Regions from separate parts of the Homo sapiens genome. Here region 1 is linked to region 2. The links come from fine-mapping of genetic effects on gene expression. A gene starts in region 2. The other region holds a variant in brackets. All regions are shown on one strand. Distances are between the middles of the regions. Region 1 holds the start of LOC107985977 (a long non-coding RNA gene). Region 2 holds the start of KANSL1L (KAT8 regulatory NSL complex subunit 1 like).

The links. PIP is the estimated chance that this variant, and not a neighbour inherited with it, causes the effect. A credible set is the group of variants that fine-mapping cannot tell apart.
Region 1: its variant is the best candidate, but not a certain one, in a credible set for the expression of KANSL1L in pituitary (GTEx, PIP 0.60).

What each region holds. Positions count from the first base shown.
Region 1 is chr2:210,129,455-210,145,029 of GRCh38, forward strand. The region is part of intron 2 of KANSL1L (KAT8 regulatory NSL complex subunit 1 like); the gene reads right to left. It overlaps LOC107985977 (a long non-coding RNA gene), which reads right to left and starts at 10,714. Exons shown (of 2, transcript XR_001739866.3): 1 at 8,924-10,714; 2 at 1,002-7,667. The variant T/C (reference allele first, on the strand shown) is at 6,346.
Region 2 is chr2:210,164,680-210,180,254 of GRCh38, forward strand. It overlaps KANSL1L (KAT8 regulatory NSL complex subunit 1 like), which reads right to left and starts at 6,730. Exons shown (of 15, transcript NM_152519.4): 1 at 6,470-6,730. RefSeq lists enhancers at 5,755-6,389, 5,817-5,996, 6,390-7,025, 7,026-7,659, 12,708-13,209 and 1 more and silencers at 6,187-6,496, 6,617-6,946.

The DNA of each region.
Region 1 (15,575 bases), 35 kb before region 2:
GAGATAAACCAGCAAAGAAAAGGAAACATGAATGACAATGCAAACACCATGTAAAAACTGTTACATAAAACTTTTATACGTAAGTAGATGTCAAGTACCAGACAATCCATTTGAATGGTGCTAAATCTAAATCCATGTAATAAACTGTAGCATATTCGATTTTACTATAAGTAATTTTTATTTGTTAAAATAGGCATCGTTATTAGCTAATTATTTAAATCATTTTTTAAAAGCTATCAAAAATTATAAAAAATATAAATGCTCTGCTACATTTCAAATAAGCATACCAAATATATAGACCTTAAAATATTTAAGATAAACTGTTCCTTAAAAACCTGATTCCTAGGATTCACAACCTACAGATCACAAAGAATTTACATAAAGCCTTTCTTTCATGCATATTTAAAAATAAGGGTTGATTCCTAGCTCCTCCTAGTACCTCTTGTCATTTGGCAAGAGCACTACAGCTAGAGAAAAATTATTGGGGATTACGGGTGGTATATGTGTGTGATATTTAATTAGGAGATGCAGATTGCAAAAAAAAAAAAAAACTGACAGAAACTGAAGATATAACTGTAGGACAACAATGACTTAATGACAACATGTAAACTTTATAAAAAACTTATCTAAAAATTCATTTATTGTCAAAACCCGCTGACTGTAGAACGCCAAGAGTGAACCCTAATGTAAATGATGATCTCTGGGTGACAATGACGTGTTAATGTAGGTTCATCAATTGTAACAAATACACCACTCTGTTGTGGGATATTAACACTGGGAAAGGTTATGCATTTGTAGCATGTAGGAACAGGGGATATGTGGGAACTCTTTGTACTTTCCATTCAGTTTTGCTGTGAACCTAAAACTGCTCTAAAAAATAGTTTATTAATTTTTTAAAATGCACTGGACCATAATGGAATATCTTTCAAATAATCTTTAAACAGAGAAAATATTTATTCTAAGAGATCATTTGCTGTCAGATAAACAGAACACAATTATTATGGCTTTGCTATATAGAATTTATTCATTATAACAGGATTTTACATTATATCAATGTTTCTGAAAGGCCACTGTTTTTAAGGATTCTAACTGCATACAATGTGATTAAAGACACCATATGATTTAGGATTTCTCTTGGTATTATTATTTATTGTTTATAGTCATTACTGTGGTTTCATAAATTTGACACTTAAAAATCACATTTTCCTAACTGTGGACAAAATAAAATACCTATTCAAAATATACTATTCATAGTTAACAGTTAGCAACACTAAATGCCAATCACAAAATCAGAGAAGGCAAGCATGCTAGCGCGTAGCATTTTACACAGGTGAGGATAAAATGTTTGGATTTTAAAACAAAGTGGAAACTACTGGCAAGGTGGTAACAATTTTTTTTTTTTTTTCAAGAACTTTGGCTACTAGGTGGAGAAAGCACTGCAGTAGGAAATGAAAAAAAAGTCAGGAAAACAACTAAGATGTTATCTGTAATAATCTGGGTGTAGTACAGATCATTGTGATCTCTAAATATTTCACGTACCGCCCTACACTTCCCAGGCTTATGCATTTATGTTGGAGCCATTTGACTAGTTCTGAGCAAATGCGCTGTAAGCAAAAGTGACATTGTCATTTCCAGTTCACCTGAGGATCTTCAAAACCAGTAGTGCAGAGAGTATAGCTACAAGATGGAGGAGGAGAATAGCCCAGATCACACTGGACTTTATGTAAGCCGCAGTACACCTCTGCTGTGTGAAACCATTGAGATTAGGATGCTAATTTGTAACTCTAAATATAGCCTATTCTGACTAAAACACTGAATATAAAAATGGCTTTGACTGGGAAGGAGAGGGGAGACAAAGATATGTAGATAAAAGAATGGATTCAAGGTTCATTTTAAAGTTGATAGGACTTGCAGAAGTATGGCATAGAAGTGAGCTTAGGGCAATCAAAGATGATCTTAAACATTCTTTAAGTTTTGCTCCAGTTGGAAAATTCCCCTATAATATGCAATTTGGTTTGGCTATAATATTGATGATTAGTGAATAATGAAATATAACAGAAAAAAATGCCATAGAACTCATATTATTGTACTTCTGGTAAAGATATTCTGATACTCAAGTTAGGATTACAAAAATCATTGTTATGATGTTCATATACTAGACTAAATTATACTAATATAGAAAAATAGCAATACCAGATTAAATTTAAGTAAACCAAATCGCATCGGACGCTTTGTGATATATGAAATAAATTTTCTTTTTTTTTTTTTTTAGTTTTGCTGTGTCGTCCAGGCTGGAGTGCAGCGGTGCGATCTCTCCTCATTGCAACCTCCACCTCCCAGGTTCAACGGATTCTTGTCCCTCAGCCTCCTGAGTAGCTGGGATTACAGGCATGTACCACCACACCCAGTTAATTGTATTTTTAGTAGACACGGGGTTTCACTACGTTGGCTAAGCTGGGCTTCAACTCCTTTCCTCAAGTGATCTACCCGCCTCGGCCTCCCAAAGTGCTGGGATTACAGGCATAAGCCAGAAAGCCCGGCCTGAAATAAATTTTCTGTAGAGGGTAACTTATCCTACATTTTAACAGGAGTGAATAAAACATGTTTGCTATGCTTATAAGTGGTAAACAAAAATGTTTGCTTCCTAGAAAACATGTTTTTCTAAAAAAAATAAGATTGTTAATAATTAAGATGTTACAGATAAATATATGGCTAACTTGCTCAAACAAGATCAACATGTTATACCCCAAAGTCAAACATTTTATGTAAACAACTTATATAATCAATGTTAATGGTTTACATAACTTACAGTGTAACCAAATAGCATATAACTAATGCACCAGCATACTCAGAGTGTCCCAACTCCCCAGTTAGCATATAAGCCTGGTCTGCCACTGACTCCCTGAATCTTTCTAGAGTGTGCAAAACTGATCACAGACCACCACATGCTGACCATAATGTGGGTTCCCTATCTCTAGTAAAGATCAAAGACATTGGTGAGTGGAGACCACCTGGACAGTGACAGAGATCACTCATTCCCCAGAAAGGTAGCATTATGACTTCAATTCCCATCCTTGCTTGCTTGCAGCCACCACTTAACTTTTGCTAAAAGAAATGAGTACAAGCTGTTTAAACTTAAGTGGTTTTGAATGCAATTTCTCTTGGTACTAACTGTCAACATCACAAACTTACATCTTTGTTTTGACCTCCTGGTATGAACTCATTTGGTCATGATGAATTTTTACTGTTTGCTAGACCCTATTTGTTATTTCATTTAGGATTTTTCTTTGCATCTATAGTCAAAGAAGATATGGATCTGCTGTTCTCTTGTCATATTTGGTTTTGGAATCAAGCTAATGCTACCCTCATAAAACGAGAAGTCTTCTCTCCTCCTTGATTTTCTGAAGGAATTTATGTAGGACTGGAATGGTTTATTCCTTGAGTTTCAATGAAATTAATCAGTGAAGCCATCTGAGCCACAAGTTTTCTATGTGGGAAAGTTTATAATTATTAATTTTTCTTTTTAACGTAAGGTTTTTCAGGTTTTCTATTTCTCATTGTGTCAGTTTGGTCATTTGTGTCTTTTAAGCGATTAGCCTATTTAGCTTAAATTGTTGAATTTATTGACATGTACTTGTTCATAATACAGTCATCCCTTAGTATAAGGATTGGTTCCAGGACCCCCTGAGGATACCAAAATCTGCGGAAATGGTCAAGTCCCTTATATAAAATGATGTACATGTGCATATAAGCTACATACACTCCATTGTATACTTTAATTTCTAGATTGCTTATAATATCTAATACAATGTAAATATTGCTTATAATACATAATACAAAGTTATTATACTCTTTTTAATTCATATTTTTTATTATTGCATTATTTTATATTTTTCTTGGCTATTTCCATTTATAGTTAGTTGATACACAGATACAGAACCTGGGAATACAGAGAATGGTTTGTATCCCCCAATTATTCCACAATGCCAGAACATCTATAGTGATATTTTTCCTTCTTCCTGCTATTAGTATTCTTCTAAATAATCTTGCTAGAAGTTTATAATTCTCTCCATTGTTTTCATGTTTTATATTCTGTGAATATCCACTCTTTATCATCACCTTTTCCTTCTATTTGCTTTGGGTTTAATTTAGTATTATTTTTATTGCTTTTTAAGTAGGAGACTTAGACCACAGACTACACTATTCTCCTTTCCTAATACAAACATGTATAGCCATACAGCATTGCTTCAGTAATTTAGTAGCTGCATCCCTCAAATTCTGATATGTCATGTTTCTAATATTATTCAGTTCAAAACATTTTATAGTTTCTCTTGTGACTTCTTCATCCACGAGTTATTTGGAAATGTGTGATTTAATTTCTACATATTTCAGACCCACATATTTACCATTTCTTAACATTTCTTTTTTCCTTTATGTAAATCTGTTTTTACCCAGTATGATTTTCCTTCAGCCTGAAGATCATCTTTTAAAATTTCTTTAGTGCGTGTATACTGACAACTTCTCTCTATTTTTGCTTATCTGGAAATGTCATTTTGTCTCTGTTTTTTAAAATGTTTCACTGGGCAGAGAATTTTAGACTGACTTTTTTTCCCCACCTTTCAGCACTTTAAATATATCATTCCATTTTTCTGGCTTACATACCTTCTAGTGAGAAGTTAGCAGTGATTTTTATTTATTAACCACTTCTTCTGAATGACTATTCCCTTGTTAGCTGAAGTCGTTTTACATTTCAGATATTTTTAGCTTCTGAACGTTCAATGGTTCTTTATATGTTCAATTTCTTTCATTATGTTCACATTTTCCTTTTAAGTCCTTGAGCATATTTACAATAGATATTTTAAGCTCTTTGCCAACTACTTTCATGATCATTATCATTTCCACATCAGTTTCCATTAATAATTTTTCTCCGCTTCTTTGCATGCCTAATAGTTGAATACACACATGTGCACATACATACACACATGTCTAGTAGGTTTTATATAAATACATATTTTAAGGGTACTATGATTATGTTGTTAATGTGTGGATTTTGTGGTCTTCCTTAAAGAGTGATGAATTCTGTTCTGACAGGTTATTATATTACTTGCTGTTCAACTTCATAAATTTCAGCTTACTTTAAAGCTTTGTTAGAGCATGTGTAGAGTAGCCACTACACTAAGGCAGTTATCAAATTGAGGGAGAGGTGGATAGTCTGAGGAAAATAACTAGTAAATTAATAAGTGCATAGGCTTAACAACTATGACAAAATGAGATCTTTGGCTGTGGTATTTTCACATATAACTGACAGGAAGAAAAAGAGAATGGAAACCTACATTTCGGAGGGAACTCGACTAGGAAATACTACCATAAGCCTAACAAAGACTATCCCTGGGAGCCAAATCTGCACCAATAGAAAGCAGGGTGAGAATGCAGTGGTGTCTCCAATAAGAGTACACTAACACCCATGTTAGATACAGTCACAAAGAATCATAGACCAAGAGTAATTCCCAAAGAGCAAGGTCAGGGACTATGAAGGACAAATGACAAGGGAGCTTATCTCAGAAAGCAAAATTAAGGTCCTAGCAAGACCTTACTCCACTGCCAGAGCAAGAAGTCTATTATTGTAAGGAACAGGAACTATCATATATGGCCCATTCTTTTTTTTCCCATTGGGAATTTTCCTTGTCCTTTATACCATCATACAAGAAGCAAGAGGTCAAGAAAATTAGGAAACTTGTCTCTTAGTTTATTGGTCACCACATCATGATGAACCACACAGAAACCCGATATAGAGGACTTTACCCAATGAATGTGACTTTGGGTTATCATCCTTGAGAAGATGGTATGTTTTATGAATGAGAAAGAGGTACATGGACATTTGGGTAGCCAAAGAGGCAAACTGAATAGACTTCTTGTTTTCCCCTAATATCCATCCTCCTATACTTTTTGGATAATAGAGCTCCTTGGGTTTCAGCTGAGCCCTCAGCAGCTCAGCTTAGAGACCTTATTTCCCAGCCTTACTTGCAGTTAGGTCTGACTATACAACAAAGTCCTTGAAAATAAAACGTGAGCCAAAATTATGTGCACAACTTCTAGGTCTGGCCATTATAAATGATTGGGTTTATCATTAAAAATGACTGAATATGGAAATGAAATGAAGTACCAGTGACTCTCAACAATGCAGGCAAGGGCAGCATCCTAAGGAACAGCAAAGCTAAAAGGTCTCTGCTAAACCCTGTAAAGCATATCTAATTCTTGACCGTTAAATGAGAGAAAAATAAATTCTATATATTTATGTTGACTTCTCCTTGTTATAAAAGCTTAACATATACCTTAAATAACATA[T/C]TCCTCCCTCGAAAATATTTCATGCTATTAGGATCATTTGGGCTAACAAGTTCTCATTTAAAATGTTCATTGTCTTTAAGATGAGCCTTACTGACATACAAGTTAATAACTTACATACTCTATCATCAAGTTGTACACACACAATATAGACACATATATGCACACATTCATGAAGTAAACAACAAACAAAAACAAAAAAATAAATATACAGTTGTGACCTCTAGAAATTCTGGCATGAAGATAAACCACATTAAAAAGTGCAGTTTAGGATGTCCAAGGACTATCTGAGGTTGGAACTTAAAAAGGGTTCCAAAAAGGAAGAATAAATGGAGTAAACACATCTTGAGATCTTATGCAATTCTGCCTAGAACTCTGGCAGAACCTAGTGTCAACTGCCTAAACTGAAAATTTCAGTATTAATTAAAAATAATTCATATATGGGATGGGCAAATTTAGTCTTCTTCTCTTATTATCTATCCTCCCACCCCTCAAAGAAAAAAAAGAAAAAAAAGGAGAGATTGGGAAATATTTATGCATTCTATCGCTACCACGCCTCTTCTCTTGTATGGAAAGAATTTTCAAAGTTATAGCCTGTAAAATAGTCTTAAATATGTTTGTAAAATCTTTGTGTAACATCAAACATTGACAAATAAGGACATATTTTTAAAAGGGAAATACTGTAAATAAATGTTAAACTAATCAAAACATTTATTTGCTAAAGAAACAATTTCACTGTTCAATAAGCATTGTGTGTATGTGTGTGCATGTCTCACTTTTGTTCAGGAAGCCAGGCAACCATGTAATGTTTTCAAACTGAACTGTACACGGGCCTGGATGAAGATGCAAGTAAAATCCAGCAAGAGTTCTGTACTCCAAACCCTGCAATTACAAACCTACATCTGCTCAGTGGAAGGAAAATCTTTTCCTAATGCACACAAATGAGTTAGTAATGGGCCTGCGAAACACTATAATGGGCCCTGAAAAGAAATAGGATAAAAATTAAAACTACCTTTATTAATCAAAAAAATGACTACCACTAAGCCAGAATCAAGTACAGGCATTCCTGCTCTAACACAATATATGCACTTCTGTATAACCTCATGTTCTGCAAAATAAAAATAGTTAGACTTATTGTGAAGATAGTGCCAGACCACACAATACCTAAGGAACTTTTAAATCTGAGCCCTAACAAAACAATAATGATTATTATAAAAATGGAAAGTTTCCACTGGCATTTGTACCTAAAATAAAGCAGTCCACATTTAAAGCTTCATATCCTGGGTCTCTTCTTTTTTTGATGTGCATCCTTGAAGACATTAGTTCTAATAGAAACCAGTTTAATAAAAATTAAAAATATCTTCTAGAGACAGCATTTTTCATTAGTCAATTTCTTTTTAACACAAGCAAAATATCTTTAAAGCTTAGTCAACACAGAAAAATGTATAGCCAATAAACCAGCAACTTACTGAGCTACAGGAGGATATTTCTATAGGACTTTTAGCATTTTGTTTAGATCTTCAGCTACTGCTAAGAATTCCTCTTTAGTTGAGAAAAGCTTGACCTTGATCATTTCAAAATGCTAACAAGTTTGAAGTAATCTGGAAACAACCCACATTGTGGATACACACACAAAGTGTGTAAAAATCTACATTATATTGACATCATTCCCCTAAATGCCAAATACGTCACAAATTTACATTTTAAAATGCTGTAACAGAATGAATTACATACATTTTTAAAATATTACTAGACATTAAATGAAAAATATTTCTGACAATCTTAAATATATTATGCAACATATTATTTTAAATGATCCTGATGCTTACATGCATAAATTTGAAATATTGCATTTCCTCAGTGCTAAAGATGCCATAAAATTTAAATACAATCAATTTCATAACATAATTCCCTGGGGTGGGAAAATAATATAATATTAATTCTATACATCTGGCCAGGCACAGTGGCTCATGCCTGTAATACCAGCACTTTGGTAGGCCGAGGCAGGCAGATCATTTGAGCTGAGGAGTTTGAGACCAGACTAAGCAGCACAGCAAAAACCTGTCTCTACAAAAAACAGAAAAATTAGCCAGGCATGGTGGTGCATACCTGTAGTCCCAGATACTTGGGAGGCTGAGTTAAGAAAATCACTTGAGCCCAGGAGGTTGAGGCTGCAATGAGCCATCATTGTGCCACTGCACTCCACCCTGGGCAACAGAGCAAGACTCTGACTCAAAAAAAAAATTGTACATATCTATATAAGGTACATCTATTAGAAACATTAAAATGTGATAAAAATGTGCATTTTGGAATCCAAGAAGCATGTTACATCGAAAGTACAAATTTTCATGAGCTGTGATTTTTTTTTTACAACTATGAAAATTTATTTTATTTTTAAAAACAGTGCTAATCACAGAAACAGAAAACCAAATACTGCATGTTCTCACTTATAAGTGGGGGCTAAATATTGGGTAAACATAGACATAAAGATGGCAACGATAGACACTGGGGACTAATGGAGGGGAGAGGAAGGGGGTGGGTAAGGGTTGAAAAGCTAACTATTGTATATTATGCTCACTACCTGGACAATGGGATCAATCAGACCCCAAACTTCAGTATCATGGAATATACACATGTAACAAGCCTGCATACATACCCTGTAAATCTAAAATAAAAGATGGCAGTGTTAAAAAAAGTTAATGATATCAATTCTATAAAAAAAACTTTTAGAAATAATATTTGCAGTGTTTAGATTTGTCTAAGGAAGCTTAACATTGGGACTTACGCTTTTTAAAAATCTTTTTTAGCTTTATTAAGATTCAAATGACAAAAATATTACATATTTATGGTGTACATATTTATATATTAACACAATGCTGTCCTATATGTACACATTGTATAAGATTAAACCATGCTAATTAACATATCCATCATCTCATATACTTTTTCTATGGTGGGAACATTTAACATTTTTTATGGTAACAACATTGAAAATATCATAAGTCGAAATGCATTGAATTGGCCAGGTGCAGTGGCTCACACCTGTATTCCCATCACTTTGGGAGGCTGAGGCAGATGGATCACCTAAGGTCAGGAGTTCAAGACCAGCCTGGACAACATGGCGAAACCCCGCCTCTACTAAAAATACAAAAAATAGCCAGGTGTGGTGGCAGGTGTCTGTAATCCCAGCTACTGGGGAGGCTGAGGCAGGAGGATTGCTCGAACCTGGGAGGTAGAGGTTGCAGGGAGCCAAGATCGCACCACTGCACTCCAGCCTGGGCAACAAAGCAAGACTCCATCTCAAAACAAAACAAAACAAAACAAAAAGAAATGCATTCAATTATGTCTCAATAAACTCACCTTAAAGTTGAAAAATTGTAAGTTGAGCCATCATAAGTCAGGGACTCAACACGGTATGTTATTATTAACTACAGTCACTATGCTGACCATCTCCAGAACTTATTCCTCCTAACTGACATCCATACCTACACACACTACATTTTCCTTATCCATTCATCTGTCAATGGTCAGTTTGATTGCATACTTTGGCCACTGTAAATGAGTATCAACATGAGAGTGCAGGTATCAACTCAACATACTGATTTAATTTCCTTTTGACATATACCCAGAAGTAGGATTATTGGGTCATATGGTAATTCTATTTTAAATTTCCAGAGAAACCTCCTTACTATTTTCTGTAATATCTGTGCTTGTTTACATTCCCACAGTGTACAAGAGTTTCCTTTTATCTGTATCCTCTCCAACATTTGTTATTCTTTTTCTTGTAATAGCCATTTTAACAGGTGTGAGACGGTATCTCATTATAGTTTTAATTGGTATTTCCCTGATGATTAGTGATGTTGAGCACTTTCTCATCTATGTGTTGGCCATTTGTATATCTTCTTTGGAAAAAGAAATTGTCTATTCAGGTCCTTTGCCCATTTCCTTTTTTTTTTTTTTTTTGAGACAGGGTCTCTTTCTGTCACCAAGGCTGGAGTGCAGAGGCGCAATCTTGGCTCACTGCAACCTCAACCTCCTGGGCTCGAGTGATCTTCCCATCTCAGTCTCCTGAGTGGCTGGAACTGCAGGTGCACACCACCATGCCTGGCTAACTTTTGTATTTTTTTGTAAAGACAAGGTTTTGACATGTTACCCAAGCTGGTCTCAAATTCCTGAGCTCAAGCGATCCACCGGGCTACACCTCCTTGGCCACTTTGCCCATTTTTTAATCAGGTTATTTGTTTTCTTACTATTGAGTAATTTAACTTCCATATGTACTTTGGAAATCCTCCCTTTTCAGACGTATAGTTTGCAAATATTTTCTCCCATTTCATAGGTTGTCTCTTCACTCTGCTGTTTCTTTTGCTGTGTCAAACCTTTTTAGTTTGATGCAATTTCATTTGTCTATTTTTGCTTTTGTTACCTGTGCTTTGGAGTGCATATCCAAAAAATATTTGCCAACATCAATGTCGAGAAGCTTTTTCTGTTTTATTCAGGTCTTATGTTGAAGTCTTTAATCACCTTAAGTTGATGTGGGAATAAGGAGTAAGATAAGGGTCCAATTTCATCCTTTGATATGTAGATAACCCATTTTCCCAACACTGTTGAAAAGACTATCCCTTCCTCATTGTGTGCCCGTGGCATCTTTATTAAAGAATAATTGGCCATAAATGCATGGATTTATTTCTAGGCTCTCTATTCTGTTTCATAGGCATATGTGTGTTTTTAATTCCAGTGGCATGCTGTTTTGACTATTATAGTTTTCTCAATGTATTTTGAAGTCAGGTAATGTGGTGCCTCCAGCTTTGTTCTTTTTGCTCAAGATTGCTTTGGCTCATGGGGTCTTGCTTGGTTTTACATAAATTTTTGAATTTTTTCCCATTTCTATGGAAAATGCCAGTGGAATTTTGATAACAATGATATGGAATTTGTAGATTGCTTTGGGTTGTATGGACATTTTAACAACTCTTCCAATCCGTGAACACAGGATGTTTTTCCATTTGTTTCTTTTTCCATTTTTTCATTCATGTTTAGTTGTTGGTGTACATATCTTTCACCACCATGGTTAAATTTATTCCTAAGTATGTTAGCATTTTAAGTAGGATGGTTTTCTTTTGGACAGCTTAATATTAGTGTATAGAAATAATACAGATCTTTGTAGATTGATTTTATATCCTGAAACGCTAATTAATTTATTTCTAACATTGTTTTGATGGGGTCTTTACACTTTTCTTATCTCTAAGATGTCATCAGCAAAGAAAATTTAACTTCTTTCCCTGATTTGGATACTTTTTTAAAATTTCTTTTCTTTCCTCTCTTCCCCTCACTCCCTCCTTCCTTCCTCCCTTCCCTTCCCCACTCCTCTCTGTTTTCTTTCTTTTCTTTCTCTCCCTTTCTCTTTTTCTTTTTTCTTTTCTTTCCTTTTTCTCTTTTATTTATTTATTTTTATGCCTAATGAACCTGGCTAGCAATTCCAGTATATGTTGAATAGATTGGTCAGAGTAGGTGGTATCATCTGAACACTGTGTCCTCAAAATTCATATGTTAAAACCTAATTCCCAATGTGATGGCCTTAAGAGGGTGAGCCTTTGGAGATGATTAGGTGATTAGGCTCCACCTTTATCATGAGATTAATACTCTTATAAAAGAGGCCTGAGGAAGCTTGTTCTCCCTATCTACCATGTGAGAACAGAGGTAGAAGATGCCAACATGAAGGAAAGAACAAGCCCTCACCTAACACTGAATCCGCTGACAACTTGGCCTTGGACTTCCCAGCCTCCAGACTGTAAAATAATTTCTGTTGTTAATAAGTTACTGAGTCTAAGGTATTTTCTTACAATAGCCCAAGCAGATGAAATGGTCGAGGAAAAGGTATCAAGTTTTTGCCACTAAATTGGATGTTAACTGTGAGCTTATCATATATGGCCTTTATTGGTAGAGGTACATTCCTTCGATACCTAATCTGTTGAGAGTCTGAATTCTGTCAAATCCTTCTTCTGCAAATGTATTAAGAATGTTTTTTGTCCTTCATTCTGTTAATGTGGTGTATCCTACTTATTGATTTGTATATGTGGAACCATCCTTGCATCCCAGGGATAAATTCCACTTGACTGTGGTGAATGATCCTTTTAATGTGTAGTTAATTCAGTTTGTTAGTATTTTGGCAAGGATAGTGACAAAGGACATTGGCCTATAATCTTTTTTTTTTTTTTTCTTATAGTGTCCTTCTCTGGCTTTGGTATCAGAGTAATGCTGGTCTCATAAAATGAGTTTGAAAGTATTCCCTCCTCCTCTTCAATTTTTTTTTTAAGAGTTTGAGTACAGTGAAGTCATCAGGTGCTGGGCTTTCCTTTGATGGGGGACTTTATTACTGTTTTAATCTCTTTACTTGCTATTGGTTAGTTCCAATTTTCTATTTCTTCATGATTCATGTTAGATTCTATGTGTCTAGGAATTTATACATTTTTAGGTTATCCAATTTGTTGGCATAGAGATGTTGCATAATAGTCTCTTATGATCCATTATATTTCTGTGGTATCAGCTGTAATGTCTCCTTTTTCATTTCTGATGTTATATATTTGGGTCTTTTTTCATTTCTTAATCTAGCTAAGGTTTGTCAATTCTGCTTATCTTTTCAAAAAAACCAACTCTTGGTTTCATCAATCTTTTCTATTGTTTTTCTAATATCTTCTGCTTTGATCTTCATTATTTCCTTTCTTGTACTAATTTTGGGATTAGTTTGTTCTTTTTCTGCTTCCTTGAAGTATAATGTTGTTTGAGATGACTTTTTCAATGTAGGTGTTTATTGTTACAAAATTTCCTTATTAGAACTCCTTTTGCTGCACCCCATAGTTTTGTAAACTGTGTTTCCATTTTCATTTCTCTCAAGATATTTTAAAATTTCTCTTTAAATTTAGTCATTAATCCATTGGCTTTTCTTGATTTCCACATATTTGTGAATTTTCCAAAATTCCTCCTGTTACTGATTTCTAATTTCATATGATTTTGGCTGGAAAAAATACTTGATATGATTTCAATCATTTTGGTTAAGATTTGTCATGTGGCCTAACATATGATCAATCCTGAAGAATGTTCCCTTACACTTGAAAACAATGTGTATTACAATGTTGGATGGAATGTTCTATATATCTCTGTTAGGTCCATTTGGCCTAAACTATAGTTCCAGCCCAATGCTTCCTTTTGATTTTGTCTGGATGATTTATCCATTATTGAAAGTGGGGTATTAAAGTCCCCTACTATTATTGTATTGCAGTCTATTTTTTCCTTCACATCTATTAATATTTGCTTTATATATTTAGATTCTCTGATATTGGTTACATATGTTTATAATGTAGTATCCTCTTAATAAACTGGCCTCTTTATCAATTATATACTTACCTTTTTGTCTTTTTTTACATGTTTTGGCCTAAAGTGCATTTTTTTTCTGATATACATGTAGCTACCCCTGCTCTCTTTTGGTTTCCATTTGCATGGAATACCATATTTTATTCCTTCACTTTTAGTCTGTGTGTGTCCTTATACTGGAAGTGAGTCTCTCACAGGGCACATACAGCTAGCTGGGTCTTAAAAAAAATCCATTCACTGACTATATATGTTTTTAAATTGGATAATTTAATCCATTTATATCCGAGGCAATTGTTGATAGGTAAAGGTTTATTATTGCCTTTGTGTTCACTGTTTTCTGTTTTCGTTTTGTTTTTAATGCAGATCCTTTGTTCCTTTCTTCCTCTCTTGCTGTCTTCCTTTGTGATTTGGTGATTTTCTGTAATTATATGCCTGGATTCCTTTCTCTTCATCTTTTGTATATCTACTATAGGTTTTTGCTTTGTGGTTACCATTAGGCTTAAGAAAGAACAATTCATAGTTATTAGGAGTCTATTTCAAGCTGATAATAACTTCAATCTCATATACAAACTCTCTATACTTTTATTCCTCCTATTCTATGCTTTTGATATCACAATTTACATCTTTTCATATTGTACATCCTATGACAAATTATTGTAGCTATTATTTTAATAGCTTTGTCTTTTAATTATAATAAAAACAAGTGATTTATACACCACCATTATTAGAGTATTCTGAATTGACTATTACCAGTGAGTTTTACACTTTCATATGTTTTCATGTTCCTAATTAGCATTCTTTTTCTTTTCAGCCTGAAGAATTCCCTTTACCATTTCTTGTAAGGCAGATCTAGTGATGATGAACTTTCTCAGATTTTGTATGTCTGGAAAAGTCTTCTCTCTCCCTTTCTGAAGGACAGTTTTGCTGGGTTTGGTTTTTTGGTTGGCAGGTTTCTTTCTTATTTTCAGCACTTTGAATATATCATCCCACACTTTCCTGGCCTACTAAGTTTCTGCTTAGAAATGTGCAGATAACTTCCTGAGGGTTCCCTTGTATGTGAAGATTTTCTCTTGCTGTTTTCAATAGTCTCTCTGTGATTTTTGACAGTTTGACTATAATATGTTGTAGTGTGGTCTTTGGTTTGAAAATGACTGGAGAACTTTGACTCTCCTTTACCCCGATGTGACTATCTCTCCCCAGATTTGTGACGTTTTCAATCATTATTTCTTTAAAAATACTTTCTACCCCTTCTCTCTTCTACTTCCTTAATTGCTATAATGTGAACATTAGCTCTGTTGAGGATATCCCATAAATCACACAGGCTTTCTTCACTCCTTTTCATTATTTTTCCTTCTCTGACTGGATATTTTCAAATAACCTGTATTTGAGTTCACAGATTCTTTCTTCTGTTTGATCAATTCTGCTCTGATGCTCTCTATTGCCATTTTTCACTTTGTTCAGTTTATATTCAGCTCCAGAATTTCTGCCTAGTTACCTTTTTTTAAATAATTTCAATCATTCTGTTAAACTCCTCATTTTATTTGTGTATTGTTTTCCTGATTTTGTTGAATTGCCCCTCTGTGTTCTCTGGTAGTTTACTGAGCCACCTTAAAAGAATCATTTTGAATTATCTGCCAAGATATTCATAGATCTTCTATTTCTTTAGGATTAGTTCCTGGAAAAGTATCATGTTCTTTGGTGGTTTTATGATTCTTTGGCTTTTCACGTTGCTTGTTACTTTGCATTAATGTCTGCATAGTTGATGAAGCAGTCACCTCCTTCTGACTTCATATACTGGTTTCAGTGGAGAAAAAAACTTCTCCTTCAGGTGGGTGTGAGGACACCAGCTGGGTGCAGTGTGACAGTTC
Region 2 (15,575 bases):
GAAAATATCAAACTTACAGAATTTAAGAAGCAAAACTAAGTTATGAAAATATATCAGTCCTCTTTCAAAGAAAGCAACTAGATACATAATCTTGATTCTGTCAATAGGTAACAGTTCTAGATAATCCAAAAACCAACTATGTTTCTTGGGTATAAATTTTACTTTTATTTTTTCTGTTTTTTTTTTTTTGTTTTTTTTTGTTTTGAGATGGAGTCTCGCCCCGCCACCTAGGCTGGAGTGCAATGGCACAATCTCAGCTCACTGCAACTTCCGCTTCCTGGGTTCAAGCGATTCTCCTGCCCCAGCCTCCCAAGTAGCTGGGATTACAGATGCATGCCACCATGCCCAGCTAATTTTTTGTATCTTTAGTAGAGATGGGGTTTCACCATGTTGGCCAGGCTGGTCTCGAACTCCTGACCTCGTGATCTGCCCACCAAAGCACTGGCATACTTTTACGTTTTTACAACAGAATTTTCAACTTACATTCCAATTTTACTAAAAAAAAAACCAAAAAACAAAAAACAAAAAAAATTCCTTAGCACATCAGCAGCCCAGAAATGTTATGGATGGCAAAACAAAACAAAAACCAGTCTGTTATAAAACTGTTACAGATAGTCTATCAAGTAAATAATCCTCCAGTAAGCAATTCCAAACTCAGTGTATCTCCGGTTTTTTTAAGAAGTCTTATTAAAAAACACCAGAGAGAATTTCAGTAAGACAAGACAAAGCTTATGTTTTTAAATAATAAACATTTTTTAAAACTAGAAAGAATCAATTTTTTTGTTTTTGGTTATATTAAATTTGTTATAAATAAAATTAATCTAATAAAAACAAGGGGGGATTGTAAAGTTAAATCTACACCATAAATTCTAATTTTTAGACTACAATTTAATCCAAAGAACAATCACTGTGAATTAAGGCATTAGTTGCTATTAGTTGCTCTGAAATTATTATAAATAAAATTAAGTTAATCTGATAAAAACAATAGGTAGACTGTAAAGTTAAATCTATACCATAAATTCTAATTTTGGGTCTACAATTTAATCCAAAGAACGTTCATTGTGAGTTAAGGAAAGCATGAGTTACTATTAGTTGTTCTGAAATTGTGTAACAGTAGTCTCCCCTTATCAGCTGTTTCACTTCCATGGTTCGAGTAACCTGTGGTCAACTGCAGTCCAAAAACAGGTGAGTACAGTAAGGTAAGATATTTTGAGAGCGAGCAAGAAGAGCACATTCACATAACTTTTATGTATAGTTATAACTGTTCTACTACTGTTGTTGCTAATCTTTTACTATGCCTAATTCATAAATTCAACTTGATCATATGTATGTATGGTTAGAAAAAAATAAAGTATATATAGGGTTAAGTACTGTCTGCGATTTCAGGTACCACTGGGGATCTGAAACATATACCCCAAAAATAAAGATGGACTACTGTACTACAAATAAAAGGTCTTGCCCTGTTGTCTCCAGACTTTCCATTAGGAGTTTAATCTATATTTTTTAAGATTTCTAAACCATACATATTTATGAATTTAGCATTAATTAAATGCAATCTGATCCCTTGGACATCATGAAATACAGTAAAAGCCATCATCCTCAAAAGGTGCATGTACACAGTGAGATAATTACCAAGTCAATAGTTACTGAGTTGGTCCAGACAGTTAATAATCAGACCTTTACAAATTAATACATAGGTCACATATTTCAAAAAATTTTTGACAAACTTTCTAAAGAAAAATAAAAAATTTGCTAATCTAATCTCAACGCTCAGAGTTGAAACTGATAATCTATATAAGAACCACTCTTCCTCCTGAGAATGTGCATTAAAGATTAAAGGCCAAATCTGAATTCCTATCCCCTAAAATACTGCTCCAGATTCTGATTTATATTCTAGAATGCATACATATATTCCATATATGCCATGGAAAATATCCTATCCAAATCTGCCCCTGAACATTAAATTTATTCTTTTAACTGGAATCTGGATAATCCCAGCTCTCTTAAATGCAGAGCAAAGAAACAAACTAGGAAAACATTATCAGAAAGACAGCAGATTTATACTTGATGCTTAAATAAAGTGAAAAGACTACCAACAGTATTTTGAGAGAGGGGAGAACCCTGAAGTAGGGTCAAATAATAAATTATTTCCACACTTGTGACCTAAATGTTTCATATAGCTAACCTAGGCCAATTACAGAAAGAAAGAGTAGAAAAAAGACAAATTCTTTTAGCAAAATATGAGAAGTTTTTAAACATTATCTCTAGACTATAAGGAGACTAGAGGAGTACAGTCGTGCCACTGCATTTCAGCCTGGGTGACAGAGAGACACTGTCTCTACAAAAATTTAAAAATAAATAAATAAAAAATATATGAGGATTCAAAGTTACTGAATTGTAGCAGGGAAAAGTCCAATTAAACAAACAAAAAAAGAATGAGCTCACACTGGTACAGTTTTATTCCTCAAAAATACAGGAATTAATGGAAAGTAGGAATACAAAATACAGTGTTGTTTTCAAGATTTCTTCATGCCACTTTACAGGAATTCTCAATTTACTGCAGTAAACACTGCAATAACTGGCATAACTAGGATTCAGTCAGCTCAGTACTTTATATTCAATGATGTTTTATAAGCAAGAACTTCTTCCACTTTGAAAACTATGCCTAAAAAGGAATTCTCTTTGAAGACTAAAGGAATTTAATTAAAGATAAAGCCACTTGGGTGGCTACATAACACATCAAACAGATCATACTTCAAGCAGAATTATTACTTTTCACTTGTAAGTGCATGACTCATAGTCATTTTTTTCTGTGTATATCGATTTGGATCCAAAAATCTACATGTAGAAGTACACTATCACATTTGCTCAGTCTATATACTTTAGCTTCAATTTAACTTCACATGAATAAACACTGATTAATGACCTACTGCTGAATAAAAATTTGTTTAAATAAAAACAACACACTTGAGAATTGTCTTGGACTGGAAACAAAGCCTCAATATTATATAAAATAAACAAAAAGTTCATAAATATTTTTAGAATATTAACAAAGTCTCAATATTATTAATGAATTTTCACGTCCATACAGAAATGTTTCTAAGAACCTAAAAATAACATCAAGTATTTAAAATTTCCATTATGAATAGTCTTTGGATTTTTATTATAGACTATCTACTGGCAAGTTTAATAGTACCGTTTTTATTAACATTTGCTGGGTGTTTATCCCACATGATTAGGGAATAAGGAGTACAATTCAGTGAAAAGTCCCCATAAAACAACATTTAAAAGAAAAAGAAAGGTAGAAATCTCTTGGAAATTATATATCTTCCTTGCCTTTCTAAATGGAACATACTAAAAGTAATGTAAGATTGTATTTATGATTCAGGGTCATCATGATGTAAATTATTCCATTAAAGTACTATAATGCAGTATCAGCTTTAAGGATAGCGATATGAGAGATATGCTTTAAAATTAGTAAATTAGTTGCTAATTGTCCAATAAATGTCACTCCTGCTGCAAGCAGCCCCATTCCTTTCTGTTTGTATCTTGATGAACCCAATCAGTAAACAACCCTAAGCATAATTCTATACCTGAAGAAAGCAGCTCTCTGCCTCCTTCAACTACCATCTAATACTATATAGACAAAATAAGGGTATGGAGAGATTATCTGAATACATGAAAAACATCATGAAAACAAGGATTACATATTATTTATAAGATTTATGTGGTAGATTAAAGGGCATAAAGGATCCTATAGGCAATAAGAAGTGAGCTACCAAGAACCATCTCAATAATAAAGGAACTTCAGATAGCAGGCATCATTTTTTGTCAAACACAGTAAAAGCTACAAGTGAAACTACATTGATCAGTGAAACCTTTACGTTAATTTCATAGAAGACAGATGAATGAGTAAAGGAAATGAAATAATCTAAGGTATCATGATAAATGGCATCAAAATTGGATGAAGTTCTTGGATAATGCAGCAGTTGGGCTATGAGAAGTTAATTGACCTTCTGGTAGACAACTGTGATCAGATCACTGAGGCCTCACCTGAATGAAAAAGTAGTAAAAGTTATGAATCCAACAATAATAGTATATTACTAACAATGTACTAGTAAACTGAGTAAAACAAAAAGCAAAAGACAATTTCCTGATCTTCCATAGATAAAAAAGATAAATATTAGCCCACTGGCAAGTATTTATTGAGCACCCACTAAGTGATCTGCAGCATGTCAAACATGAAATATATTTCTTTCTCTCAAGCACTTTACAATAAGTTAAAAAATAAAAGATACATCACAGATTAGAGTGAAAAAATTTAAAATGCAAATTAAAGCAAGGTTTTTAGTTTTAAAGCCTAATACTAGGTGATAAACAAAGACATAATGGGAGGCACACACATACCACTAGATCACTGTAAATCAATACAACATTCTGTAATTTGGTGATGACATAAGAGCCTTAAAAAACACACACACAAACAAACAACAAAAACAGACTCTTTGGCCCAGTAATTCCTCTTCTACAAATCTAAGGGGGGGAAATTTCAAAGGTTTATGTAAAAGGATATTGTCTGTAGTGAAATATACACTAGCAAAACCAGAAACATCCCACATACGTGCCAACAGAAAAAATTTAAAATATGATAGTTACATGGCGAAATGTTAAGCAGCTATTAAAAATATTTTTCAAAGAATAATGATATGCGAATGTCTGAGTTAAATGAAAATACCATGTGGTCTCAGTTTTAGGAAAAATACACATATATGCAGACAGAAATATTTAAAGTACAAAATATTTATAGTTTTCTTATTTGCACTCATCTATTTTCCAATTACTTTATAATAATAAGATTTAACAAAATAATCGATTGTTATTTGCAAAGGCGCATCATGAAACAAAATTAAAATGTAAATGTTAAAAGTCAATGTGAGAGAATTGGCCTGGATTAAGAAGTTTCACATAAAAAATTACTCCAGACAGTTTGCGGGAGAGAATAATCTATGTAGATTAAAACCATGAGGAAATGGTTGCAGACGCTGACACTGATCTAAGTAGGTGGAAACTGAGGGAGAACCAAAGATAATGGTTACAACAGATTTTAAAGATACTCAAATATATTCTATTTCATGATTAATTCATTGTTTATATTTCCCCAACATGTGGGCTTTTAAAAAATTCACTTTTGTTATAAAAATAACACTACTTGGCAATTGGTAGAGATTAGGAATCACTTTTCCTAATACAAGGCATTTCTTCTTTCTTACAATCTCTTAAGACAGAGACCATATTATGAAACTTTACAAAAACGAAACAAGTTTGACATCAGAGAGGTGACTAACCCAAAGAAATGGCTAGTTATTAAGAACGGGAAAGGCAGAGACCACTCACTGTTAAGCCTCTTTCTCAATACTGAATTATTTTTAGAGTCATTTTTTCCTAGTCAGAAATTGCCAGTTTTGTCTGCAGTGCTCACTTCACTTAGGTTTTGTGGCTAACAAACCTGCCCCATCCAGCAATATTTAAAATTATTACTGACCCAAACTCAGATGAAGTTAAGCAAACTGGCTAAAGACGAAGGAAGTTTGTCTCCTAAACCTCGCCAGAACATGAATGTCCTGAAGTTTGGGGAATCAAAAACGGAATGTGCTTACCACAGTTCAAACAAAAAAACAAACAAAAACGGACTCTCCCAGAGTAAGAAAACATTACAAGAACGTCCATCCAGTGCCTGCCCTCCCGACTGCAAAGCCAGCCTCTTTCCTTTCCTGTGGTTTCTGAAACGGCCAGGATACCGCCTGGTATTTCTTGCTACCAAACACCACGCAATCTGACTTTTTCCAGCAAGACCGGTCCCTTCCTCAGCACACCGGTGACACAAACTTGGAAGCACCGTCCCTCAAAAATCCCCTAGATTCTGCTCTATCCCATCTAACTCTAAAGCCCAAATCTACGTTTTCCTGAAAGAAAGTGTGAAATAAATAAAATAGGGGTCTCATCAAATCCAGTGGGCTCCGCCTCAGAGCCGCCTCAAAAGAGCCGTCACCACACCCCCAATGGGTGAGGCTCAGCCGATGAGGCAAGAGGCGGGTCCAGGAAACCACGTGTTCTGCCTTCTGCGCACGCGCCAGCCAAAACAAAAGGGAGGTCTGCCAAGCCCCACCCCCCACGTGACCGGCGTCCAGGTCCGCCCCCACCCCTCCCTAGACCCCTTCCCTCCCCAGCTGCCAAGGCTGTTAGGTTTAGCCGTTTAAATTTGGCTGCGGTCAGACCCCCGCCCTAGAGCGCGATCCCGTGCCGAGACCAGAGTCCAGCAGCCCAGAGGATTCGGGGGGCGAAGGGGCTGCCGGTCGGTCGCCTGACCCGCAAGTCCACCCGGCAGTCTTCTCCCCTCCCCGCGCTGCCGCCGTCCCCAAGAGGGAAGACCCACCCCCGTCATCCCGCCGCTGAGACGCCGGCCACTCGCCTGCTGGGGCGCCCTGGCTCCCCTCCGCCGCCGCACCTTCGGTCCGGCCGTGGTGGGGGCTGCTGAGGTGATCTCTAGCTGCCCGCCCGCCTCCCCCACCCGGGGCGCCGCTGACTCGTCTCCAGAGCGCGCCCCGCTCCCGCCCCGGCCGCCGCCGCCGCCGCCGCCGCCGCCGCCGCCGCCGCCGCCGCCGCGGTTTAACAGTCCGCCCGCTGCCCGCAGCTCCGTGCGGCTCGGGGGGACGGAACCCTGCCGCGGTCTGGGAGCAGTGGGCGGGGCCCGGCGCTAGCCAATGGCAACGGGGGAGGGGCAGCGCCATGCAAATGAAGCGGGTGGCGGGGAAACCCCGGCAGGGGGCGGGGCCTGCAGAAGCGGCTCGGAGTGTTCTGGAAGTGGCAGGAGCACGACTCCCTTAACTCTGGTGCAGGGTTTACCTCGGCTCCCTCGGGACGGGTTCCGTGCAGCTCCTGCTTCCTCCCTTCTCTTTCCCAGTGCCATCCCTGGCGAGGGGGAAAAAAAAAAACACGGCCAGGAGACTTCCCACCCCTGCTTTGCTATTTTTGTACCTCCGTGACAGAAAAACAAAACCCTGAGGAAAAGTCAGGCGACTTCATTCCCTGCCGTCCGCGCCGGGGCCTCGACTACTGCTGGCGTCCGCGGCTTTCGCCCGCCGCTCCACAGGCGAGTTTTAAGAGATTTCTCACAATTGTCAAGTCCGCAAGTCTCCGTGCGTTTGCTTTTATTTGGGCCGTGCGTTCAAATGCGCTCATAATTCTTTCTGACCCTCAGAGGGGCCCTGAAGTAGGTGACAAATTTGCCTTGGATCCAACTGGGTGGTTTTATGATTAAAAAAAAAAAAACAGACAAAGCAGTTTTAAGTCTCTACAAATCTGGTTTGAGTGGCGCTGGACCTAACTCCCCTCTGCAGTAACGCTGTCAAATAAACAAACGGAGTTTATGTGGAGATAGTTGGCCAGCGACACCCAAAAACACTTCTGAGCGTCTTGCACCTGGCCCCGCGAACCGCTCACCACAAAACAAACCTGCACCTGGGCACTTCCCCAGCCAAGAACTCGATTTTTTTAAAACTGAACTCTAAATGTAGCTTCTTAGATGTTGTATCACAGTCTTTCCTAAGCACCGAATTTACACATGAAATGATTTAAGGAACGAAGAGCACTAGGCTTTTTAAGCCAGAAGGATAATAGCCATTATTTTAACCTTATCAATTGGATAAGATCCCGGGGGCGGAAGAGGGGAGAAATCCAAGGAATTGCAGTCATAACAAAGCGTAATCCGTAACATAGATAACTGGAATTGGAAAATTAGCTACTCGTTCCTGGTTCTTCTAGTAGATTGTGATATTACTGAAATAATTTTTATGACCAGCTGCATTTATTGGAGCTATATTTTTTTAATTACTGAATAATTGCACCTCGATATGGGGCAAGGGAAGAATTTTAGGAAATTGATTTACTTTCATTGTAATAAAAATTGTAAGCTAATGATGTGTTGTGAAAAATAATTAAATCAGTAAGTATTTATTGGATATTTACCATATTCAAAGGACTGTCCTAGTCCCTGGGGACAGAAATGCAAAAATGAATAAAGTATTTTTTAAAGTTTTGTTTTTTTAATTAGCAGTTTGAGACATCTAATAAGCATGTGTTAAGATAGATCAAAGGAAGATTCTGGATTTGAGTTGGACGTTTAAAAGACTTAAGAGAGAGGAGGAAGGCATCAATAGTTCAGGAGATAGTGTCCTTGGGTGGTTTGAGGAGATGTTGTGTGAATATTTGGGGGGCAGAAAAGTACATTGTCAACTAGATTGAGTAAATCTTGAATGACAGGAATTCAGATTTTAACCTGAAGGAACTGTAGAGACATCAAATCATTTAATGGTAGTTTTCTCCTGTGAAATAATTTTTTGCTACCAAACAAAATATTTATATATTTGCCAAATGTTTATTGAACACATGTTTTGTGATGGCTAATGAAGATATATTAGTAAACAAATTCCCTGTCCTCATGGAGTTTATAGAGGATGACAAAGGGATTAAGCTTTGTAACTACACAAATAGTGATTCATACAGCATTTCTACATATATTATGTAATTTGTTCATCACATAGCCGTGGGAGGTAGGCTGTTTCCAATACTCTAGATTAATTTTTTTTTTTTTTTTGAGACGGAGTCTCACACTGTCTCCCAGGCTGGAGTGCAGTGGTGCGATCTCGCCTCACTGCAAGCTCCGCCTCCCGGGTTCATGCCATTCTCCTGCCTCAGCCTCCCGAGTAGCTGGGACTACAGGCGCCCGCCACCAAGACCGGCTAATTTTTTTTTTTTTTTTTTGTATTTTTAGTAGAGACGGAGTTTCACTATGTTAGCCAGGATGGTCTAGATCTCCTGACCTGGTGATCTGCCCGCCTCGGCCTCCCAAAATGCTGGGATTACAGGCGTGAGCCACAACACCCGGCCGCTCCAGATTAATTCTTTTATCTTCTAGTCAGCCCTGCCGCCTGCTAAATGTTACAGACCTTAAATAAATATTTCAATCTATCAAGCTATCATACATGTACATTTTCCCTATTTTATATTCGGTTTAATAGGAATGTGGGGAGATGATTAACAAAATAATACAGGTTTGATATAAAATATATAGGAAAGCACAAAGAAGAAAACCACAATCATATGCAAAGTCTGTTGTATTTTATATGTATGACACTGTGCATACTGGTTTTTTATCCCATTTAGCTACATGTTAAGCACACTATCCCTTGACACTGAATATTGTTCTAAAGCATGATTTTATTATTTGTAGCATATACATGCGAGTTTTCCAGACACTATAGAATATCAGTTCTCCTTATTACAAAAATTGATATACTGAATCATTTGTCAAATTATTTTCTATATTACTCAGCAACAGCCTGAAAAGTGCATGTAGTTAATGTTTTTTTAAAATCAAGGACATATCATTTAGAAGGTACATTAAAAGCATTCTGATTTCCAAGAAAAAATATAACAGTGGTAAGAATAGAACACTTTAAAATCCAGCAAGAACAAGGAGAAGTAAAGGGCACCATTCTTGCTGACATAATAATTACCTATCTGGAAGCTTTAAAAAATGTCCAGGTAAGCAGTATTACAATGATTTCATGAGATAAACTTCTCTCTTCAACACTGGTTTTTATTCAGTCATTCCTTTCACTCAAGAAACATTCATGCAACACTTAGTATAGCTGACACTGTGATAAATGCTAGAGATAAAGGAGAAAGATCAATCTTTAATTTCAAGCAACTCACAGCCAAGAAGGGGCTTTTCTATCCCCCTTTGTTACTTTGTTTTTCTCCATTGCACTTATCAGCATGTAATGTAACATAGATTTTGATTTTTTTACTTTTGTAGTCTATCGCCCTAAATTAGACCATAAGCTCCATGAAGTCAGGCACTTTTGCTGGTTCGCTCATTGCTGTATCCCTAGAGCCTAGGACAGGGCCTGACACATGTGGATTCTCAATGCATATTTAATGTCTGGATAAATTAATTTTCACATCCCAGAAAGTGAATGTTATATTCATTTTCCAGGTGAAAAAAATATGAAGCTCAGTGAGATTAATGTACCTAGATTCTTATGCTAATAAATGGCCCATTTCGAAGACAGACCTGACTGGGTCCAAAGCCAGAGTTCTTTCCTCACTACCTCTCACAGAATAGAAAGCCTATTCTATTCTATTCTATTCTATCCTATTCTATTCTATTCTATCCTATCCTATTCTATTCTATTCTATTCTATTCTATTCTATTCTATTCTATTCTATTCTATTCCATTCCATTCCACGCCATGCCACGCCACGCCATGCCACGCCACCCCACCCCACCCCACCCCACCCTACCCTACCCTACCCTACCCTACTCTATTCGAGGTTGTCCTATTTATTTCTCCACATTTCTATGCCCTGAGAAACTGTCCCCCACTGTTATATTCCAGTATATTTAATTCTTCTTTTATGATCAGGTTTAGAGAGGGAAATAGAAGCAGAACGGCTAAACATGATAATCCCTACTCAGGACAGATTTAGCTTTAACTAACCAGTATCTATAAACAAGCAGACAAAAGGTAGAGGTAGGTAGCAAGACCTATAAGAATCTTCGAACCAGGGCTAAGTATAACAGAGAACAGAACTGGCCCATGACTACAGGGGAACAAAATGATTCCCTGTGTATATGAATATCCATGGCACTTTTATTCACAACAGCCTCAAACTGGAAACAGCCCTAAGATCCATCACCTTTGAAAGGATAAAGAGCTGGGCACGGTGGCTCACGCCTGTAATCCCAACACTTTGGGAGGCCGAGGCGGGCAGATCACCTGAAGTCAGGATTTCCAGATCAGCCTGACCAACATGGTGAAACCCCATCTCTACTAAAAATACAGAATTACCCGGGCATGATGGCACATGCCTGTAATCCCAGCTACTTGGGAGGCTGAGGCACGATAATCACTTGAACCCAGGGGGCAGAGGTTGCAGTGAGTGGAGATCATGCCATTGCACTCCAGCCTGGGCAGCAAGAGCAAAACTCCATCTCAAAAAAAAAAAAAAAAATGAAAGGGTAAAGAAATTATGGTACATTTTTCTTTGTATTCTATTATAGTGGTATAATAGAATACCACTCAGAAATAAAAAGAAGAAACTACTGATATATAAAACAACAAGGATGAGTCTCAAACAGTATGCTGAGTGAAAGAAGCCAGACACAGAATCATAAATATTGGATGATTCCATTTATATAAAGCTCTAGAGAAAGACAAATCTAACCAATAATGACAGAAAACAGATCAGTGGTTTCTTAGGGTTGGGGTGGGGAGAATTGACTGGGATGGGATTAAAGGGTGACAAAAAAGTTCTATATCTTGACCATGGTGGAAGTCAAATGGGTGCATGCATTTGTCAAAACTCATCAAAATATACTTAAAATGGGAACTCCCTAATGAAAGTGGACTAAGAAACCTCAAGAAGTTCTCAGTCTAAAATTAAAAACTAGGAAAATAGGTTGTGTATAATGTATGAGAAAACTCAAAATAATGATAGCTTTAAAACAGAAGGGTTAATCCTTTAACATATTTTATTGATTCTAAGACACCTTTTTTCCACACTTTAACATTTCAGAGATCAGAATAACTTCACAGTTCATGCAATAAGAAAGTATTGTATGAGTTTGATTGGCAGTGTTTTTTTAATGATACATAAATAGTGCATCTTAAGAATCAATAAAATGCAGTAAAATTAGTCTACAGATTAATTATTCCAGAACTGTTATAACAGCTCCACAAAGTCACCAGAGACCCAGGCTCCTTTCTATTATTTTATCTTCTCCATTCTCAGCCCTGGCTTCCATTTTCAAAGCAATCTCATGGTCCCAGATGGCTGGTGGAACCCCAATCATAACTATCCATTTCCCAGGCAGCAGGAAGAAAGAAGAGCGGGAAAGCAAACAGAGCCTTTAAGGTGACTTTCCTGAGTCCCTCTCAACAATTCTACAACTTCATCAGGTGGATAAGTTAATCTTTTATTTTACTTGTAGCTATTGTAAATGGTTTTACTTTCTTGATTTCTTCTCTAGATTGTATGCTGTTGGCATATAGAAATGCTACTGATTTTTGTATGTTGATTTTGTATCCTGCAACTTACTGAATTTATCAGTTTTAGTAGTTTTTTTGGTGGACTTCTTCCTTTCCAATGTGGATGCCCTTTATTTCTTTTGCTATTTTTACAAATTTGCCCTGAAAAAGTTTTATTTCTTCTTCTTTTTAAACATTTTAAGTTCAGGGGTACAAATGCAGGTATGTTACATAGGTAAACTTGTGTCATGGGGGTTTGTGTCCAGATTGTTTCATCAGCCAGGTATTAAGCCTAGTATCCATTAGTTGTTTTTCCTGATCCTCTCCCTCCTCCCACCCTCCATCCTCCAAAAGGCCCCAGTGTGTGTTGTTCCCCTCTATGTATTCATGTTTTCTCATCATTTAGCTCCCACTTATAAGTGAGAACATGCGGTATTTGGTTTTCTGTTCCTGAGTTAGCTAAGGATAATGGCCTCCAGCTCCATCCATGTCCCTCCAATGGACATGCAATGGACATCTCATCTTTTATATGGCTGCATAGTATTCCATGGTGTATATGTACCACATTTTCTTTATCCAGTCTGAAAAGATACTCTTTTCAATAAGTAGTGTTGGAACAGTTAGATATTTAGATGCAAAAAAAGTAAGCCTTAACATGAAACTTCATGCTTTATAAAAAAATTACTAAAGGGAATATAGATCTAAATGAACAATATAAAATATAACCTTCTTAGAAGAAAACATAGAAAACCTTATGATTTGGGTTTGGGTAAAGAGTTCTTAGACATGACACCAAATGCATGACCCACAAAATAAAAAAGTGGTAAACTGAAATTCGTCAAAATTAAAAAACTTTTGTTCTGAGAAATCAACTGTTAAAAGAATGAACTAGCTACAGTGAGAAAATATTTGCAAACCACATATCTAACAATGGACTTGTATCTATAGCGGAACAGCTCTGCAGCGGCTGACAACCTTGCATAGGCCACATAAGCAAGGCTTGAATGGCAGCTGAATCTTGGCAGAATGCTTTGTGATCCTCCTGGAATAGGAAAGCATGGGGGCTTGTGAGGTAGTGCTACATGCCATTGCTTACTGGCTTCCCTGTATACCAAGGAGGCTGCCAAAGACCCTTTGTCATTATCTCATGGTTTCTGATGAGGTACAAGGCTTCCTGTCTTGCTACCCTTAAGGCACAAATGCAGCTATTAAAAAAAACTGCTTAGCAGTATCATGGAAATGGGCTCCTCAGCAACAGGGAATCCTATCATTCTTGTTGTGGTCATGTGGCTTCTTTTGTTTCACTGTCTCCCTATACAAAGGTAACGAAGAGCTGGATCCTTTAGCTACTCTTCTTTTTACTCTCTATGTAAGCAATAAACTGAGTCTAAAAAGGTCTTGTTTTTTTGCAGCTGAATCTGTTAGCCTAGCTTTGCCTTGTACTTGACAGTATCCAGAATATATAAAGAATTTTCAAAACTCACCATAAAGAAAACAAACAACACAATTAAAAAATGGGCAAAAGAAAGGTAATATGTGAAAGGCAAGTAAGCACATGATATATTGTTCTGCATGATTAGACATAAAGGAAATTCAAATTAAAACCATGGTGACATGCTACTACATACCTATTAGAATGGCAAAAATTAAAAAAACAAAGTGCTGGAGAAGATTCAAAGTAACTGGAACTCTTACATTGCTGGTTGGTCAGCAAAGTGGTACAGGCACTTTGGAAAAACAGTTTGGCAGTTTCTTATAAGTTTAAACACACACTTACCATGTGACACAACAAGTCCTCTCCAGGATATTTAACCTTAACAAGATATTAAGATTTAATCTTAACCAACGTGTCTGTAAACAGGTGAATGAATAAACTGTGGTACATGCCTACAGTTAGCACCAAAAAAGGAAGAAGCTATTGACTCATGCAACATGGATGGATCATAAATATATTTTGCTAAGAGAAAGAAATTATTCTCGAAAGATAACATACTATAGTAATAGGTGTGGAGAGGGTGTGACTATAAAGGGCAGAATTTTTTGAGGTGAAAAGACTGTTGAGGGAGTTTTTTGGGGGTGATAAGACTGTTCTGTATATCCTAACTGTGGTGGTGATCACATCAATCTATAAATGCTAAAACTCTCAGAACCAAAAAAGGCAATTTTACTGTTACGTATGAATACCAAAAAAGGGAAAATATGCTATATGTTAACTTTTAAAATGAAATTTATAAAGAGAAAGGAAAAAGAGAAAAGGGAGGACTGCTATTTAAAAAAGGAGAGAGACAGAGAGAGAGAGACCAAATACAATTTGTGGACCTTGTTCAGATCCTTATTTGAATAAACTAACTATAAAAGGCATTTTTGATGCAGTCAAGGAAAATGTAATGTGAACTTGGACTTATATATTAAATTTAGGTTTTTTAAAGTATGATAATAACCTTGTGGCCATGTAAAAATATCTTCACCAGTTAGATACATATTCTGAAATACATTTGTGTTTGTGAAGTAGCATTAAATCTGGGATTTGCCCTATAATATGTGAGGAAAAAAGTGGAGGAGATTGGCAAATGTTGAAGCTGGAGGTTCATTATATTGTACTCTATTTTTTAGTAAGTTTGAAGTTTTCCATAAGTTTTTTCTTAAAAATGACATTTTAAAAATTATAGTAGAATTTCTTTTCCTCATTTATTGTAAAGCAGCAGACATAGACCTACAGTTGGTTTCAATCTCAGTGTCAAATCTTTCCAATGACTCCAAATAAATAAATGCTGTGTGTGCCAAAAATAATACTGACATGAGAAAAATTCTGCTAGAAATCTTATACTTTGAGTAATAAGCTACTAGAATTACTAGATTAGTAAAAATTTGAAGAGTTAGATTTTAAAATAGCAAATCAAAACAGTTTTCAATGACACCATCAAAGAAACAAAGGGCAAGAGTAATTTTAAAGCAATCATGATCCTAAAACTCTTAGCCAAAAAACAAAATTACTCAGGCTTTTAAACTCTCATTTATATTTACACAATGTTTCTTTCTTGCTGTGTTGGTCCAGCCTGTTCTTTTAAGCATTATTATTATTTATCATTTCTTGAGCACTCAGCACTGCATGAGATACAGATAAGTTCCCTCCCTAGGAGACAACAATCAAAGCCACACAAGCAAAACATAAAGATAAGCTGTTTAAGAAATGAAAACCAAATGAAAGATTAAGAAGCACATTGTGAATTCCCTTTTTTTGTTTGTTTCAGCTTTAAGCCCATGATACAAAACATGCTTCTTTTGGGGGTGTAAAACAAGACTGTAGTTGTTAAGATAAAGCCACTGGCTTAGAATAGAAAATATCCCAGAGATCATTGTAAGAAAACATCCTACCTTAGAAATCTTTTCACTTTCTGCTATACATAAATTACTAGAAACTATTCCTAGCTCTAGAGGACTGTAATCACTATGTATGTGTGCACGTGTGTGTGTGAGAAAGAG